Regions from separate parts of the Homo sapiens genome. Here region 2 is linked to region 1. Evidence: fine-mapped expression QTL. A gene starts in region 1. The other region holds a variant in brackets. All regions are shown on one strand. Distances are between the middles of the regions. Region 1 holds the start of RHAG (Rh associated glycoprotein). Region 2 has its middle 16 kb from the start of C6orf141.

What was found. PIP is the estimated chance that this variant, and not a neighbour inherited with it, causes the effect. A credible set is the group of variants that fine-mapping cannot tell apart.
Region 2: its variant is the best candidate, but not a certain one, in a credible set for the expression of RHAG in breast (GTEx, PIP 0.50).

What each region holds. Positions count from the first base shown.
Region 1 is chr6:49,635,881-49,638,755 of GRCh38, reverse strand. RHAG (Rh associated glycoprotein) reads left to right here and starts at 1,917. Exons shown (of 10, transcript NM_000324.3): 1 at 1,917-2,100. The coding sequence starts at 1,944.
Region 2 is chr6:49,564,981-49,567,907 of GRCh38, reverse strand. It overlaps the pseudogene CYP2AC1P. Among named protein-coding and RNA genes, the nearest start is that of C6orf141, 16 kb to the right of the region's middle. The variant A/G (reference allele first, on the strand shown) is at 1,292.

The DNA.
Region 1 (2,875 bases):
GAAGAATGATGGATGATGTATATAGGACAGGGAGCAGAGAATATGTGGGAAGATTTCCAGTTACAAAGAGAAGCTTATGTGAAGAACTGAACAAGAGAAATAATTTCCCAGATGGTAGACAATGCAGCTTATTTCAATACAAATGTCTACATTCAGAATAAGGCAAAAAATCTGAATTCCTCGAAGTTGAACAGGCTGAAGTCAAGTGCTGGCATAGTCCCATCACCTATATGAGTAAAATCCTCTACTCCCCATGTGTTGAGTGGTTGCTGAGCTGCTGGAAATGTCCCAGAGAAAGAGAGATGCCATCGGTCTTGGATTGTTTAATATACTGTGTCACTTTTTATTAAAGAGTTTAAAACCGCATTGGTTTATGATATTGTTTAGATGTTCTTGCAATTTATTATTTGATACTTGGTTTTCACAAGTTTATGCATAGTTTATTAACATATACACTTTTCATTTAGGATTTGTTGGAGTTCTCATGAACACTCTTTAGGCTGCTGCAAAACCAAAAATTAAAGTGTGAGATGTACACATGTATTTTCATAGCTAAGCATGTGAACCCACTCCTCTTGTACTATGCTGTAACGAATAATGGAAATAGTCATTTTTCAAAGTGTCTGTATATTTATAAAATTTCAAATATCACTTAGTCCTAACATATCATGTTCTACTGTGGAAAATCATACCAGAAAGACCAAAAAATCCTGCTGCTTTGTTTTATAAATATTTATTACAATGTATGTATCCTGGCAGTCAGTTGCACTCTCTCTCCAAATTCTGCATAGAATCTTTTGGAAATTGGGCTTCATGAAAGAAATTGTATTTAACTGGTAGCTCTTAGTTCTCAAAAACAGGTTTATTCTGCCATGAGAACAATTCCAAAGAGGAGACAAGAATTCCTCCACCTATATGGTAGTTTTGAATTGCTTAGCATCTTATTTACACTTGACTATCTATAAGGATGATAGATTAGTTATGTTCCTGTTTAAGTTTACTCTCTTCCTATTTAAGACTAAAAGATATATCACAACTCATTTGTGTATTTCCATATTTTCACTTGCGTAAATCAGAGTAAGGAGTCAAAAACTTCATAAGTACATAAAACTGCTTACAGTCCTATATATTCCCCATTGCTCATGGGATAATATTTAGCATCTAGCATCCTCGGTACTGAATGTGAGGGTCTTTACAACACAGCCACCTCCATGACAACATTATCTCTGCCACTTCCTCCTTTTCTCTTCATCTCTTTTACATTCCAGCTTTGCTTGACTGATTGCCGTTTCCAAAACATGCCATGTTCTTCCAAGATTTATATCATTCCCTCTTATCTGTTTTACTTGAAAAACCCTATTTATGTTCTAGTTCTCACATCCATATTGTTTTATATGCTAATGTTCTTGGCCTAAGGCAAAAAGTTTCACTGCCTTATTTATGTTTTATAATACTTTTATAACCACTATTATATCACATATTTGTTTTTATATAATCATTCACTTATATTTATGTTTTCCCAACTAGATTCTTAATTTTCTCAAGAAGTTAACAGACCAATTATATATATTGCTTTAGATTCATGCCTTCTACAAAGCCTACCACAATATTTGGTATACAATAAGCCCTCAAGAAATGTCTACTGAATTAAGTTAAACATGATTCTAGAGGCCTGTGCAATAGATTGTTGGCATCATCCAGGTTCTCACAATTTCATTGCATATTCTTCAGATCAACATTTAGAACGACAATTAGATTACAGAGCATAATTTTCCCCAATGGGTGGGGCATTTTAATCAGTCTTGCCCATTTTTTTTTTCTTGTGATGTCATTGGGGTGCCTTGAACATGCAGTCAAATTCCACACACAGAGCAGTCCTTTGTTCTTATCAACATCTCACAGCCTGTGAAGCTCTCAGTGTGCCTCTGTCCTTTGCCACAAACATGAGGTTCACATTCCCTCTCATGGCTATAGTCCTGGAAATTGCCATGATTGTTTTATTTGGATTATTTGTTGAGTATGAAACGGACCAGACTGTTCTCGAGCAGCTCAACATCACCAAGCCAACAGACATGGGCATATTCTTTGAGTTATATCCTCGTGAGTAGGCAATTTACTACTTACTATACATTTTTCGGTTCTTCGGTTTCTCAGAATGTAAAACAATTGAATACTATAAACCCTTGAGCTCTTTGTAGAATTATATGATGGTTATGAGTGCTAAGGATATTACATGTTTGTGATGTGACATCTGGTCTTCTTCTCTGTGATTAAGGTGCTTGGTTGGAACTTTTTCCTATTAAAATATCAGAACAAGAAGCTGAAAATTAAAATAATTGATGCCTTTTGTATTGCTTATCTACTGCTAAATGACCTTTTTCCTTCAGTTGGTCACTAGTTCTGCAAAGAAAAGTATCACGCTTCCTTTGCATTCCCCACTGAAAGGGCCAAAGGTAACTTTGGAGGAGAGAGAGTTCTAAGAATGGAGTTATAAGAAGGGAACCCTAGATTTCATGTGAGGACCCTAAGGAATAAGAAGGGGTATTTAGTATGATGTAGGAAGTTAATGGAGTTTTAATCAAAAAAGTGTACTCAGAGTTTTACAATATTCTGAAAGGAAGTCGGTTTGTTACTTTGAGATGAAAAGAAATGTGTGAATACTTAACATATTTTAAAAACAAAATCCTTCCTTGGGAATGATGATTGAGCAAAGAGAGAAATTTAATTCAAGTTTGGAAGGGTAGGCTGTAAAATAGTTAATATAACAATAACTACCATTTACTGCGTCCTTATTATAAACCAACACATCCATTACCTCATTAGCCAGGAAGGAAGACAGTAGTATGTCACTATTATATAGACTATTTGCTTTTCT
Region 2 (2,927 bases), 71 kb after region 1:
AACCAGGGAGGCGGAGGTTGCAGTGAGCTGAGATTGTGCCACTGCACTCCAGCCTGGGTGAAAAAGTGAAACTCTGTCTCCAAAAAAAAAAACAAACAACAACAACAACAACAACAAAAAACTACCTATTTACTGTAAGATTCACCTATTACACAGCAAACCCCTTGAGAGCAAATCTCAGAGCCAAGCTCAAGCGACATTGACATTAAACATATCAATCTTGTTGCTATGAAACATACATTTGTGAATTGAATGGTTAGCTCTTATTTAACAAGCATTTCCAGGCACTATCTGCAGCCTTTCACCTCCCAAAAAGCTTGCTTTGTTATCAGACATAGTGAGAAAATGTTTCTCATTCTTGGAGTTAATCTATTTGCTGGAAGTCCTATATAAATAATGCTTTTTTTTTTTTTTTTTTTTTTTGAGACAGAGTCTCCCTGTGTCACCCAGGCTGGAGTGCCGTGGCGCGATCTTGGCTCACTGCAACCTCCGCCTCCCAGGTTCTAAGTGATTCTCCTGCCTCAGCCTCTGGAATACCTGGGATTACAGGTGCATACCACCATGCCTGGCTAATTTTGTACTTTTAGTAGAGACAGGGTTTTACCATGTTGGCCAGGCTGGTCTCAAACTCCTGACCTCAGGTGATCCACCTGCCTCAGCCTCCCAAAGTACTGGGATTACAGGGGTGACCCACTGCACCTGGTCAATATATCTGCTTTTAAATATTTTTCTGAGCTTTGAAGTCTTCAGTACACTTATCACACTTACCTTGTAAATTAAAGAAACAAAAACATGAAATCTAACTAAATTATATGCAACATTTTACTGACAAGCAGCAAGCAGCAAGTTTAGGATTTACAGACTATGGGAGCAGGAATGAAAAGACCTGGTTGGGTCTTCTGAAGGACTGGAAGTAGAAACATTTAATAATACTACATTTCAGTGCAGTAGGCTATCTTTGCTCTGTAAAACAACCACAAAGCTCATTAAACTTAAGCTGAAAAAAAATACCATTCTCAACACAATGTCTTAAGAAATACATATGTATAATCATTAAGACCACAGTAGTTTTAATAAAAACTTACCTAGAATGCTTCCTTCCTCAATTTTAACTCATTCCACTTTTCAGACACCTTGACATTTCCCAAATAATTCATGTTTCAATATAATACTAATCAAGTCTTTCTCCTCAAGGTGCTTTGGCAGCTTCTTAACGTTGGTTTCCAAGGTCCCGTGATGTAGTTTCTACTCATTCCTCTGGCTTCGGGTCTGAGAACCTAGTTCGCGCTCT[A/G]TGCCCTAGCCAGAGTGAAATTTCTTCCAGCCCTCAAATCTTTCATGACCCCTTCCACAAATTCCCCATCTTTGCCTGGCCAACTTCTCACCCTTTGTATGAGAGTTTAGATACAAAGCCGTTGTACAAAGCACGAGCCCTCCCTGACTCTCCAAGCCACATTAGGCCCCTTTACTATGTCCCCTTGACACACTTGGCTTTACTTGTCATTAACATTTTTCACATTAAAATATGACCATTTTATTGTGTGTCTTTTCCATGGAGCTCATAAAGCAAAGCTGGCTTTTGTGCTTCGTTATGTATTTCCAGGGCTTAAACTGGAAGGCAGAGCTCATGAAGCTCAGGGAAAGTTAAGTGAGTGATCTACACATTCCAAAATAGAAGAAATCACATGTGGACTGTTTTTGTCTTTGTCTAGATTGTTTTTCAGATTTTTGTGCCAATATGTTTTATAACCCCCCAGCATGTCTGTGTCCAGGTCGCCGGATGTGTGCTGGTGAGTCATTCGCAGGAAGGAGCTTTTCCTGTTTTTCACCAGCCTCCTGCAAAGTTCACCTTCCAGCCACTCCCTGGAGTCTCCCATCTGGACCTGGACCTAAGCCTGGACGTTGGCTTCACCACTTGACCAGTGCCTCATAAGACCTACGCTCTGCCCAGGCCTAGGCTCTGCATATGCGCCGGAGCCTCAGTTCTCACTGTTATCTTGTCCGTAGCATGAATTTCTCCTTCCTGCACTTCGCCGGCCACAGTATTCTGCCAAGCGGTTTGAGATTATTTAGGTGGTCAGCTGTACCATCACAGAGCATTCTCATGTCACATCAGAATGAGTTCCTATGCTAACTGCTGTAGTGGAAACATCCTTACTGCCATCCTCCATCCAACAAATAAATAAAACATTTCACAAATAGAACCTTCACTTAGAGCTTTAGGGTTTTGTCTTTCAAACATGAAACTGGTCCTTCTGTCACCAATCAGTAGTTATAATTGATGTGTGTTTGTGAGGGGAAGGTACTTTATAACACTTTGTCCTGAGATCATGGACGTCACCAAAATGGCAATGAAAAAAACTGCAATAAAGAAAATTCAACTCTTAAGTGAGGATCACATCATACTAAACATGAGGCAATGGTTTTACTCTGTGAATAACTAAAAAAACAATGGTTAATAACAGAGAATTGTTTGGGCATACAGCCAGCTTGCTGAGATCAAAAGTATTCACTCCTGGCTGGGCACAGTGGTTCACGCATGTAATCCCAGCACTTTGGGAGGCCAAGGCAGGCAGATCACTTGAGTCCAGGAGTTCAAGACCTTCCTGGGCAACATAGCAAGACCCCATCTCTACTAAAAATACAAAAAAATAAAAATAAAAATAAAAATTAGCCAGGCTTGGTCATACACACCTGTAATCCCAGCTACCCTGGAGGCTGAGGCATGAGAATTGCTTGAAGCAGGGAGGCAGAAGTTGCAGTGAGCTGAGATTGTGCCACTGCACTCCAGCCTGGGTGACAGGGTGAGACTCTGTCTCAACAACAACAAAAAGGTATTCACTCTTTTTTTTAGCAAGGTTGGAACTTGAAGACTCCCACGTCCCTGTTTTCAGTGCTCTGAAGTCCCAGCAAAGGCATGAGCAAGGGAC